Linked DNA regions of Homo sapiens. Changing the gene in region 3 together with the main gene of any one other region gives a genetic interaction. Each region holds a gene or a part of one and is shown on either strand. Other genes may lie near its edges.

Region 1 (3,500 bases), on a different chromosome or scaffold from region 3:
AAACACCATATGTCTTATTATTATTTTACCGTCCTACAATAAGAAATTGAGGCTTGGCAAATTTCAGTGGTAGAATGGGGATTTGAACCAGAGGTCTGCAGGACTTCAGAACTCATGTTCTTGGCCACTTTTGCCAGTGATTGTCAAAGTTCATTCACTCACATACTGTCTTCCTGAGTTTACCATGGCTGAGTCCCACTTACTCTATTAATATTTTTCTTTAAAGCAATGATTCACTTAAAGAAAAGAACCTAAAGACATCATTTTTTTGAGAGGAAATTATGTATTACTACCATATTTGGAAAGCCAACTCACTTGTTAGGAATAGGAGGTAGTCATAAATATGCGTTTGTACTTGCACCGAAACCCCAACTTCAGAATAATGATTATGTGGAGTGTGTGTATGTTGCAGGGACCTGGAATAAAAATGGAGGAAGTAGGTAGATGATACAGTGTTGGTGATGTTCTGGTTTTTGGATTGGGTGATGGGTTCATAGGTGCTGATTTTATTTTTAGACTTTATAACCTACATACACAATACATTTTTTCTAAAATGATAAAGAAAATTAAACACATAACCATTAACATAATGATTACTTAGGGAATATTTTACTGCACTATGCTGACTATAGATTTAGCTTGGTGCCTTGTTTGCAGTGGGCACACAGTAACTACTGGCTGATCGATAAGACCCCAGGAAATAATTGTAAAGCAAGCTCATTGTTTGTTATATTTGAATAAGGTTGAGGTATGTCCCCCTCCTCCCCTATTTTCTCCTGCTTCTACTCTCCTTTCCAATATTGCAACTAAATAGTGTGGGCTGCAGTGAGGTTTCACCTGGCTGTAGTTATGGGAGACACAGGCTGGGCTGAAGCTAGCACTTTTCAGCATCACCTTGTCTTATATATCTAGCACTTGGGATGGGGCAAAGAATACTGTCATGAAGTGTTAAGACACCTTCCTTTTTACCCAGTAGTAAGGTGTGACCATTCAGAGCTGGAAGCAGTATTTAAGTTAAAGCAGGGCCTGGATGAAATGTTAACAACATTAAACTGGTGAGGCTGGGAAATAAAGCCATCAGAAATTTTAATTGGAATCCGCAGAATCTCCTGTTTTATTTTCCCAAGCAAGCACCGGGCACTGTGGCTTTATTCCTGGAAATGAGGATTTGGAATTGGGTTTCCTGGTACAAAATACCTTCTTTGATCTTTTGGAGTGAAAACTTTGTGTTTCTTTCTGTGGCCAATTCCAGCTCTCAGAAGAACCAAATGGAAGATTTACCTCCTCATTTTTAGCAGTTGGCCATAGAATGCTCTTGCTTGCCATGTTAAGTTTAAGAATCAGAAGTTCTAAACTAGGGTTTGTCTGTTGGAAGGACATTCAAATGAAAGACTCCTTTTGAAAGAGCCTCATCAGTTTGGTGTGGTTGGCACATCACAGCCTTTGGTTCAGATGGGAGGTAGTTTTGCTTGAACTCACACTCTCAAAATTAACTAATAAGATATTCGGCAGCTTCCTTTTCTGAGTTAACACAAATACACCCTCTGCCCCTAATATTCAAACTAACCACACATTCGAATACTATTCCTGTGCGCTTCTAGGCAGTTCTGGAAATGTGAGATTGTTTATATGTATAAAGGCTCTTATGTGATCCATCAGAGCTTTGTTTTCCAGAGCCACGGCTATTCAGTTGTTTGATTTTTGGGTTTCACTCTCTGACCAACATTCCACTTTGCCCATTAGAGTTACTTCATTGTTGACTCTGGGTATTTGGCCTTTATTTCTGTGACTGGGAAAGTAACTTTAAATTTCAGTCTTCCTAAATTTTGTGGAGGTTTGTGCAGTAGGTGAAAGTTGTTTTGAAGAGGGGGATGGGGTGAGACCACTTTTAGCATAAGTGTCCTGAGGGATCACCCAAGGTCAGTTCTCATTCATCTTGAGGCCAAACCCTGGCTGTTCTGGTCTCTGCATTGCCCCTCACTCCCCTCCTTTTTGGGGGACCCAGATTCTTCAAGGCTCAGAGTAATCTTACTGCAAGCAAGAATGCTTTCTGGATTTTGCCATTTTGCCTTTCGACAGTCTCCTAGGTTTTATCATCCCCATTTCTTATTCTGGGATGTGATTGATCTCTTTGAGGGCAAGGACTTCAAGTTGTTCATTCCTCCATTGATTCTTTCTACACAAGTCATTGCTCTTCACCAACTTAAAACCTTTCAAATTCTCTCCCTGGGCTCCTTGAGGCAAGGGACTGTCTTATTCATCTTTTGTGTAACTTTTGCACCTAACACAATGCCTGGCCTAGACCACACAGTCAATAAATTGTTTTTGAATTGCCGAGAGAATGAATGGATGATTGCATATTAAGGGAGCAAAGGGACCTAGTCTTCTAGGGAACCAGGGAGATTGCTGACAAGATGATACCAGTCACTGTGGTCCGTAAGGATGAGTTTGGAAAGTGGGGACGAAAGACATTCTATGTAGAAGGAACTGCTTTTGATACCTCTTCTCAGTGCTTAATGTTGTAACCTGTGCTTAGTCAATTCCACAAACATTTATTGTGTTCTTTTCAGCATATGTTTCTTTCTTTCTTTTTATATTTAAGAGTGATGCTTCCATTTTTGAGAAGAATATCTCACTAATTTTTTATATCCCACAGAGCAGGGAATCCTTCATTATTTATAGTTAGGACCCAGACACTCAGTGAATCAATTACTTTACTCTTGACTTTTTCCTGTTGCATATGTTTCCAAACAGTTGACAGTGAAAACGTAGTGGTGGGCCATGCTTATGTGAGAGGTGGAAAAATGTAGGTGACCTCTTTGGAAAATGGGTGGAATCCAAAGTAAACTCCTCTTTTGAGAGATTTTTAAGGGCTGAAATCAGTGGACATACCACATATAACTTTTCATCTTGAATACTTGATGGGTGTGTGCTTTTGCTCATCTATGAAAGCCAAGATTGGCTATTAATATCACCATGCCATCGAAAAGCAAGATTACTTTGATTTGGGGGATTCCGTTTTAGCCAGTTCTGGAAGAATATTGATAGGCCCTCCAAAATATAACCTTGAACTTTAGAAATGTACAGAGGGGAGAACGAAGGTGGGGTGATCTTGGGCAAAGTTGGATATTAGAAATGGGACGATACTTGAGAGTTTGGAACGTGGGTACTGAGGAAAATGTGCAATAAGAAGAACTTGAGAAAAAGCATTCTGGAATAGAAGGGATGGGTTGAGTGATGTTTTAAACCAAGTTCCGAAACTTCCACTATTGCAGCTATTGATGAGTGTTGGCTACGCTTGGGGTGAAAGTAAGATGTGCTTGATTTACTCTCTGTAAGTAGTGAGTTAATGCATATAAGCAAACATGACCATAAAGGCAGGAGCTTAGGGATGAATATCCCTTGTCTTGATGTCAGGGACTTACACAAGATAGAAATATGCATAGGAGTGAAAGTGTAGGTGGTTATCTAGAGTGACACCTTCCTTTTCAGGAGTAAGG
Region 2 (3,500 bases), on a different chromosome or scaffold from region 3:
TAAACATTTGGACCTTTCAAGAAAGGTAGCTTGGTGAAGTTTTTCACCTTCAAACTATGTCCCAGTCAGGGCTCTGCTACTAATTAGCTATAATCTTTGCACAAATTACATCACCTTTGAGTCTCAGTTGCCTCACCTGTAAAATGAAAGAACTGGATACTCTCTAAGGTCACTTCCAGCCCTGTCATTCTATAACTCTGTTATGCTGAGGAAGAAATTCACATTGTGTTAACTGTATGAGTCAAACTGAAAATGATTATTGAAGTGGGAAAAAGCCAATTGCTTCTCTTAGAAAGCTCAACTAAATTTGAGAAGAATAATCTTTTCAATTTTTTAAGAATTTAAATATTTTTAAGGGTTTGACCTATTTATTTAGAGATGGGGTCTCACTCTGTCACCCAGACTGGAGTACAGTGGCACAATCATAGCTCACTGCTGCCTCAAATTCATGGGCTCAAGTGATCCTCCTGCCTCTGCCTCCAGAGTAGCTGCGACTATGGGCATGTGCCACCACGCCTGGCTAACATTTGTATTGACCTATTTATTTATTGTGATTTATATCTTTTTTTTTTTTTGAGACAGAGTTTTGCTCTTGTTGCCCAGGCTGGAGTGCAATGGCACGATCTTCGCTCACCACAACCTCCGCCTCCTGGGTTCAAGCGATTCTCCTGCCTCAGCCTCCCAAGTAGCTGGGATTACAGGCATGAGCCACCACGCCCAGCTAATTTTGTATTTTTAGTAGAGACGGGGTTTCTCCATGTTGGTCAGGCTGGTCTCGACCTCCCGACCTCAGGTGATCTGCCCGCCTCGGCCTCCCAAAGTGCTGGGATTACAGGCATGAGCCACCGCGCCCAGCTGATTTATATCTTATCTATGAGAAACACCAAAAACTATGAGTAAGCATCACTGAGTTATCATGTAAGAATTTTTTCTAAGTTTTAGCCCAAATTTCCAGGTCAAGACAAACCCACAGAGAGGTAAAAGGGTATTAGGATGGGAGTTCATATTTACAGCAGGAACTTTACATACATGGTCTCCTTGAGCTCTTGCAACCTTGTAAGATAAGTATTATTTTCCTTTCACAGATGAATAAACTGCTACCCTTTTTTTAACAAGTAGATTTGACTAAAAAGAACTATGTCAAATATTGCTTCCCATTTTCTTATTTCTTTTTTTTTTTTTTTTGAGACAGAGTCTTGCTCTGTTGCCCAGGCTGGAGTGCAGTGGCGAGATCTCGGCTCACTGCAAGCTCTGCCTCCCGGGTTCACACCATTCTCCTGCCTCAGCCTCCCGAGTAGCTGGGACTACAGGCGCCCGCCACCACGCCCGGCTAATTTTCTGTTTTTTAGTAGAGACGGGGTTTCACCGTGTTAGCCAGGATGGTCTCGATCTCCTGACCTCGTGATCCACCTGCCTCAGCCTCCCAAAGTGCTGGGATTACAGGCGTGAGCCACTGAGCCCAGCCCCATTTTATTTCATTTCTCTAACAGCAATGATATATATACATCCCATAGTATATCCTACTGATATACTAGCCCCTTTCCCCATTCAACACCTGTGTAATCAGGAAATAAAACAATGATTCGGGTTTAAAGGGTATATCATGTGAAACTAATGCTGGGGCGGTAGTCTCCATTCATAGTTCAAAATACAAATTTTATCCACTAAAATGGAAACACAAAAAACAACTACTGAAATGTAAATAATATAACAACAAAAATAACAAAATATCATAATACACAGGGCCAAATCACATTATATACACTCACTACACCCACTCTACCCTACCTTAGCCCGTAATCAAAGGGACAGGGGAAAAAACCAAATGTAGCAGGAAAGGCAATATAAAGCTATTAATTAATTAACTGGAATTTAGTTTGTAAATGCTAAAACCAGTTCTCAAAAATTAAGACAATGCTTTTGATCAGCAGACTAAATTATTACAAATAAAGATAAGTACTTATTGCAAAACTACTTGAATCTTTGCATGACTAAAATGTAAAATAAGTGGTGACTTGAAATCCTAGAGTGAACTTTATACAGAAAAGGAATAGTCTACATGTAGACACTGAGAACTCTTGGGAGGGGGAAAAGATTTGGATATGGCTATAGTTTTGACTTTGCAAATGATCAATTTTTGCGGAATTAGATGGAAAAGATCCGGTGCTTTTTATAGTTCAAACACAGACAAATGCTGTTAAGTCTCCAAAAATTTGATTAGAAGTTGGAGTGCTGAGTGATTTTAAGAACCTGAAGCAACAGCATTTCTAAACAATTCTTAAAATAAACTTGTTAGCCACATCAGCGTTGTGCATTAAATTTCACAACTCATGGAGAGGAAGAAAAAAAGTCTTGCTTAACTCTAAACATACAAGTTTTAGAAGAATTTTAATGAAGTGCGGCTCCCAGAACAGGAAAAGCCTTATGTTAAAACAATTCAGTCCTTGAGTCCTTGGCTAACAACTAGATTGAACTACCTACCTGACTTGGAAGTGAAGTGTCCTGGAAAACATATTTTAAAAATTTTAACACTTTTCTCCCCTTGTAGAAAACTTTAAATTTAAAGTCTAGACTATACAGACCAAATTCAAGTTAATGACTATATAACCAAACTAAGTGGCAGACAGTGCAAAGGTGAAGAACTGAGGATTTACATACTAAAACAGAAACAGGGCAGTCATTATTTAATTTTTAAAACTCTCATTTAAATTTGCAATGTTTTAGCCGGGCGTGGTGGCTCAAGCCTGTAATCCCAGCACTTTGGGAGGGCAAGGCGAGTGGATCTCTTGAGGTCAGGAGTTTGATACCAGCCTGGCCAACATGGTGAAACCCCGTCTCTACTAAAAATAAAAAAAAATTAGTCGGGCATGGTGGCACCTGCCTGTAATTCCAGCTACTCAGGAAGCTGAGGCACGAGAATCGCTTGAACCCAGAAGGCGGAGGTTGCAGTGAGCAGAGATCACTCCACTGCACTCCAGCCTGGGTGACAAGCAAGACTCCATCTCAAAAAGAAAATTAAATAAATAAAATAAATTTGCAATGTTTTAAATGAATATCACTTAAAGTAGTAATCAACAGAAGTTAGGAGAACATAACAATACTCTTTCTCTTAGAAAGTACAACAAAAATATAATTTTTTACAGTTTTACTCTCAAACTTTCCTCTGTAGTAACATGCCTTACTCACCTCTACAATAGGTTTGTTGTGAGAATCTTGTAATGTAAACCCTGGACGTTCTATGAAGCATTTTTAAACTTCTAGTTTATACCCTACTGATTCTTATTCAAGTGTTTTTTAAAAAATATTTAAACAACTATTCTTCTTTTCTTGCCAATATTTTTATAATTTCCAAGAGGTTTTAAGGATCTTGAGAGAACATTTATTTCAGAAGTATCTACTACTATTACTAGCCAAGAAAACAAATGTAGGTAGAGGAAAGACTTAACATTTTGTCCTATATACATCTTAATCATCCTAACGGTAAAAACTCACATGAAACT
Region 3 (5,624 bases):
AGCAGAGATCGTGCCATTGCACTCCAGCCTGGGCAACAAGGGCGAAACTCGTCTCAAAAAATAAATAAATAAATAAATAAAATAAATTAGCTGGGCATGGTGGCGCGTGCCTGTAATCCCAGCTACTCAGGAGGTGGAGGCAGGAAAATCTCTTGAACCCAGGAGATGGAGGCTGCAGTGAGCTGAGATCATGCCACTGCACTCCAGCCTGGGTGACAGAGCAAGATTCTATCTCAGAAAATAAAAAAAGGAAAGAGAGAGGGACAGAGAGACACAGAGACAGCCAAGGAGACACAGACAACCAAGGAGACAGACAGACAAAGGAGAGGGAGAGGGAGAAGAAAGGCACAAAAGCATGTAGAAAAGGAAGAGGCATAGCCGGGCACAGTGGCTCACGCTTGTAATCCCAACACTTTGGGAGGCTGAGGTGGGCGGATCATAAGGTCAGGAGTTCGAGACCAGCCTGACCAACACGGTGAAACCCAGTCTCTATTAAAAATACAAAAATTAGCTAGGCATGCTGGTGTTCACCTATAATCCTAGCTATTCAGCCTGGGTGACAGAGCGAGACTCTGCCTAAAAAAAAAAGGGTGGGGGGAGAGGCAGAGACACAGAGGGAGACAGAAGGGAGCATCAGAGAAGGCAGGAGAGACAGGGAGAGAGAGACACACGCAGTTGCAGTCAGACACAGACAAGGAGAGTGGGAGAAAGGGAGACAGGAAGAGAAACAGAAATGGGCAGAAAGGCTGGGTGCAGTGGCTATACCTGTAATCCCAGCACTTATGGAGGCTGAGGTGTGAGGATCACGTGAAGCCAGGAGAGTTCACGACCAGCTTGGGCAACATAGCAAGAACCCGTCTCTGCCCAAAAAAAAGAAAAAAAAAAGCCTAAAAATTTAGCTAGGCATGGTGGCTCATGCCTGTAATCCCATCACGTTGGGAGGCTGAGGCAGGAGGACTGTTTGAGCCCAGGAGTTTGAGACCAGCCTGGGCAACATAGTGACACCCTGTCTCTATTTTTTTTTTTTTTTTGAGACAGAATCTCACTCTGTCACCCAGGTTGGAGTGCAGTGGCTCGATCTCAGCTCACGGAAACCCCTGATCCCCAGGTTCAAGTGATTCTCGTGCCTCAGCCTCCTGAGTAGCTGGGATTACAGGCGCGCACCACCACGCCCAGCTAATTTTTGTATTTTTAGTAGAAATGGGGTTTCACCATGTTGGCCAAGCTGGTTTCGAACTCCTGACCTCAGGTGATTGGCTCACCTCGGCTTCCCAAAGTGTTGGGATTACAGGTGTGAGCCACCGCGCCCAGCCCCTGTCTCTATTTATAAAAAATTTATTTTAAGTTAGCCGAACATGGTGGCATATACCTACCTGTTAGTCCCAGCTACTTGGGAGGCTGAGGCAGGGGAATTGCTTGAGCCCAGGAGTTTGAGGTTGCAGTGAGCTATGATGGCACCACTGCACTCCAGCCTGGGCGACAGAGAGAGACCCTGTCTCGAAGAAAAAAAAGGAAAAGAAATATACGAAGATGGGGAGAGAGAGGTATAAAGAAAAACAGAGATAGGAGAGGGGAGAGAGACAGAGAAGGGAGAGACAGAGCCCAGGTATGGGTGGCGGGGAGAGGCTCCACACACCCAATCAGTGAGGATGCAGAAGGCAAAGGAAGCAACAGGGAGACTGAGGGGAGCATCTGGGGGAGACCTGGGCTTGCTGGAGAGGGCGGAGGATCTGCCTGGTCCTGATCTCCCACCCGCTCTCCAGGGTGGAGACGACCTGGACCCTAACTACGTGCTCAGCAGCCGCGTCCGCACTGGCCGCAGCATCAAGGGCTACACGTTGCCCCCACACTGCTCCCGTGGCGAGCGCCGGGCGGTGGAGAAGCTCTCTGTGGAAGGTGAGCGCCCCTACCCCGTCCACTGCTGGGGTCACCCAGCCCTGGCTCTGTTCCTCCATGGGCAGGTCCTCGGGTCTCTTTGGGCCCCCGCTTTTCAAAGTAGGGGAAGAGCTTGGTAAATCGTGGGGGCTTGGGGAATGGCGCGGGCTGTCAGCATTACCTGCTGTGTTGGAGATTCAGGGATGCTGTCCAGACCCGACGGCCCCTGAGAAGACCTACGCAGACACCTGGCTGCCCCCAGCGTCCTGCCATCCGTTCATCCAGCACACATTTCCAGGGGTTCTTGCCCTGTGTGGGGAGATAGGGGTCCCTCACTGTTCTCACAGAGTGTTCAGCTGGTGGGGAGACAAGAGGAAATACAGAAACCCACAGATGAACAAGATAATTCAAAAGTGCCATGAAGCCAAGACATGGGTGTGGTGGAGAATGACCGAGGGGAGCCACCTCAGATAGGAGGAGTTGAGGCCGGGCACAGTGGCTCCCACAGCAGTGCGGGAGGCCTAGGAGGGAGGGTCGCTTGAGCCCAGGAGTTCAAGACCAGACTGGGCAATACAGCAAGACCCTGTCTCTACAAAAAAGACAAAAATGAGCCAGGAGTGGTGGCACACACCTGTCATCCCAGCTACTCAGGAGACTGAGGTGGGAGGATCACTTGAGCCCGGGAGGTTGAGGCTGCAGTGAATCGTGATTGTGCCACTGCACTCCAGCCAGGGTGACAGAGTGAGAACCTGCCTCAAAAACAAATAAAAAGAGGCCAGGCACAGTGGCTCACACCGTAATCCCAGCATTTTGGGAAGCTGAGGCAGGTGGATCATTTGAGGTCAGGAGTTTGAGACCAGCCTGGCCAACATGGTAAAACCCCATCTCTACTAAAAATACAAAAATCAGCTGGGTCTGGTGGCACACACCTGTAATCCCAGCGACTTGGGAGACTGAGGCAGGAGAATCGCTTGAACCTGGGAGGCAGAGGTTGCAGTGAGCTGAGATCACGCCACTGCACTCCAGCCTGGGGGACAGAGTGTGACTCCATCTCAAAAAAAAAAGTTATGTTTATCCTATACTGTAGTCTGTTAAGTGCACAATAGCATTATGTCTAGAAAAAAAAAAGTACATACCTTAATTTTAAAATCCTGCTAAAAATGTTGTGATCATTTGAGGACTCAGCAAGTTGGAACCTTTCTGTTGTGTAGGGCCTTGCCTTGATGTTGATGGGCTGCTGACTGATCAGGGCGGTTGTCGTTCAAGGTTGAGATGGCTGCGGCAATTCCTTCCTTCCTTCCTTCCTTCCTTTCCTTTCTTTTCTTCCTCCCTTCCTTCCCTTCCTTCCCTCCCTCCCTTCCTTCCCTTCCCTTCCCTTTTCTTCTCCGTCCTTCCTTCCTTCCTTCTTTCCTCCCTCCCTTCCTCCCTTCCTTCCTTCCTTCTCTTTCTCTCTCTCTTTTCAAGACAGGGTCTTGTTCTGTTGCCCAGCTGGAATGCAGTGGTGCAATCATGACTTACCATAACCTCCAACTCCTGGGCTTAAGTGATCCTCCCATGTTGGTCTCCCAAAGTGCTGGCATTACAGGTGTGAGCCACAGTGCCTGGCCAGCAGTAATAGTTTGAAAAGAATCTCTTTTTTGAGATGGAGCCACACTCTTGTCGCCCAGGCTGGAGTGCAGTGGTGCAATCTTGGCTTACTGTTACCTCCACCTCGTGGTTCAAGCAATTCTCGTGTCTCAGCCACCCAAGTAGCTGAGATCACCGGCATGCGCCACCACGCCTGGCTAATTTTTGTATTTTTAGTAGAATCGGGGTTTCGCCATCTTGGCCAGGCTGGTCTCAAACTCCTGATCTCAGGTGATCTGCCTGCCTCAGCCTCCCAAACCACTAGGATTACAGGCGTGAGCCACCGCACCTGGCCTATGAAGCTTTTTATTTAAAGTGAAAAATGTTGACTCTTCCTTTCACTTGAACACCTCGAGGCCATTGTAAGGTTATGAACTGAATTGGCCTGATTTCAAAATCATGTGTCTCAGGGAATACGGAGGCTCAAGGAGATGGGGAGAGATGAGGGAATGGCTGGTCAGTGGGGCAGTCCGAGCACACACATTTATCCATTAAGTTCACCCTTTTATATGGGCAAGGTCGGTGGCACCCCCCAAAATTAAAACAGTAACATCAGAGATCACTGATCACGGATCGCCATGACAGATATAGTAATAATGAGAAAGTCTGCAGTACTGTGAGAATTACCCACATGTGACACAGAGACACGAAGTGGCACATGCTGTAGGAAAAATGGCTCCAATAGACCTGCTGGACAAAGAGTTGCCACAAACCTCCAATTTGTAAAAAACACAGTATCTGCAAAATGCAATAAAACGAGGTATGTCTGTATATTATATGAATATGTATAAGATATATAAATATTATAGATTTATTGTACATATGCACAAACACAAATTCATTATACACATATTTTATACATGAATATACAAATAAACACACAATTTTTTTTCTTTTTTTTTTTTTTAGACAGAATCTCACTCTGTCACCCAGGCTGGAGTGCAGTGGCAAAATCTCAGCTCACTGCAACCTCCACCTCTTGGGTTCAAGTGTTTCTCGTGCCTCAGCCTCTTGAGTAGCTGGGATTACAGGCGTGTGCCACCATGGCCGACTAATTTTTGTATTTTTAGTGGAGACGGGGTTTCACCATGTTGGCCAGGCTGGTCTCAAAATCCTGACCTCAAGTGATCTGCCTGCCTTGGCCTCCCAAAGTGCTGGGATTATAGGCATGAGCCACTGCGCCCAGCCTACAATTTTTTTTTTTTTAAAGATTGGGGTCTTGGGCCAGGCGCCCAAGTGGAGAAACCCCGTCTCTACTAAAAATACAAAATTAGCCGGGCATGGTGGCGCATGCCTGTAATCCCAGGTACTTGAGAGGCTGAGGCAAGAGATTCGCTTGAACCCGGGAGACGGAGGTGGCAGTGAGCCAAGATCGCGCCATTGCGCTCCAGCCTGGGCAACAAGAGCAAAACTCCGTCTCATAAAAAAAAAAAAAAAAGATGGGGGTCTTGCTATGTTACCCAGACTGGACTCGAACTCCTGGGCTTAAGTGATCCTCCTGCCTCAGCCTCCCCAGTATCTGGACTACAGGCTCGTGCCAGTGCACCTGGCTACCATTCTACTTTATAATAATTTTTACTAATGGCCTCTCAAAGTCCTGAGACTTCAGCCATCTGTGTTGCCAGCCATTAGGAGCAGGCACCAGCACACTGTGGCCTGCAGGTGGATTGGATGTGAGGGTCCCTCAGGGGAAGAGGTGGGTCTGTTTTCCAGATTGAGCACATGGGGTGGCCATTCCTGGGGGCCTGGACAGATGGCAGGAACAGATTTTGGGGAGCCGTCACAAGTGTGGGTTTAGACACAGGGTTCAGGTGCCTTTAGGACATCCAGGGGGCCAAGGCCCAGGCCCGTTAGGAGCAGCAGCAGGGGAAACCCTGGGCCTCCACACCCTGGTTGAGGTGGGACAGGCTGCTGACCACTCCCTCGTGTGTCCCCATAGCTCTCAACAGCCTGACGGGCGAGTTCAAAGGGAAGTACTACCCTCTGAAGAGCATGACGGAGAAGGAGCAGCAGCAGCTCATCGATGACCACTTCCTGTTCGACAAGCCCGTGTCCCCGCTGCTGCTGGCCTCAGGCATGGCCCGCGACTGGCCCGACGCCCGTGGCATCTGGTGAGGCCCCTC

Evidence for each region. Genes that interact genetically often act in the same process or in processes that back each other up.
Region 1: changes in CKM (region 3) and ACVR1 together harm fitness less than expected from each alone (positive genetic interaction), as found in Homo sapiens cells (one large-scale study listed by BioGRID).
Region 2: changes in CKM (region 3) and XIAP together harm fitness more than expected from each alone (negative genetic interaction), as found in Homo sapiens cells (one large-scale study listed by BioGRID).

Annotation. Positions count from the first base shown.
Region 1 is NC_000002.12:157,869,831-157,873,330, reverse strand, and holds part of ACVR1 (activin receptor type-1 precursor), read left to right. Parts: intron 1-3,500. UniProt on the Homo sapiens protein: Bone morphogenetic protein (BMP) type I receptor that is involved in a wide variety of biological processes, including bone, heart, cartilage, nervous, and reproductive system development and regulation.
Region 2 is NC_000023.11:123,908,553-123,912,052, reverse strand, and holds part of XIAP (E3 ubiquitin-protein ligase XIAP), read right to left. Parts: 3' UTR 1-3,500.
Region 3 is NC_000019.10:45,311,737-45,317,360, reverse strand, and holds part of CKM (creatine kinase M-type), read left to right. Parts: intron 1-1,763; coding exon 1,764-1,896; intron 1,897-5,440; coding exon 5,441-5,612; intron 5,613-5,624. UniProt on the Homo sapiens protein: Reversibly catalyzes the transfer of phosphate between ATP and various phosphogens (e.g. creatine phosphate).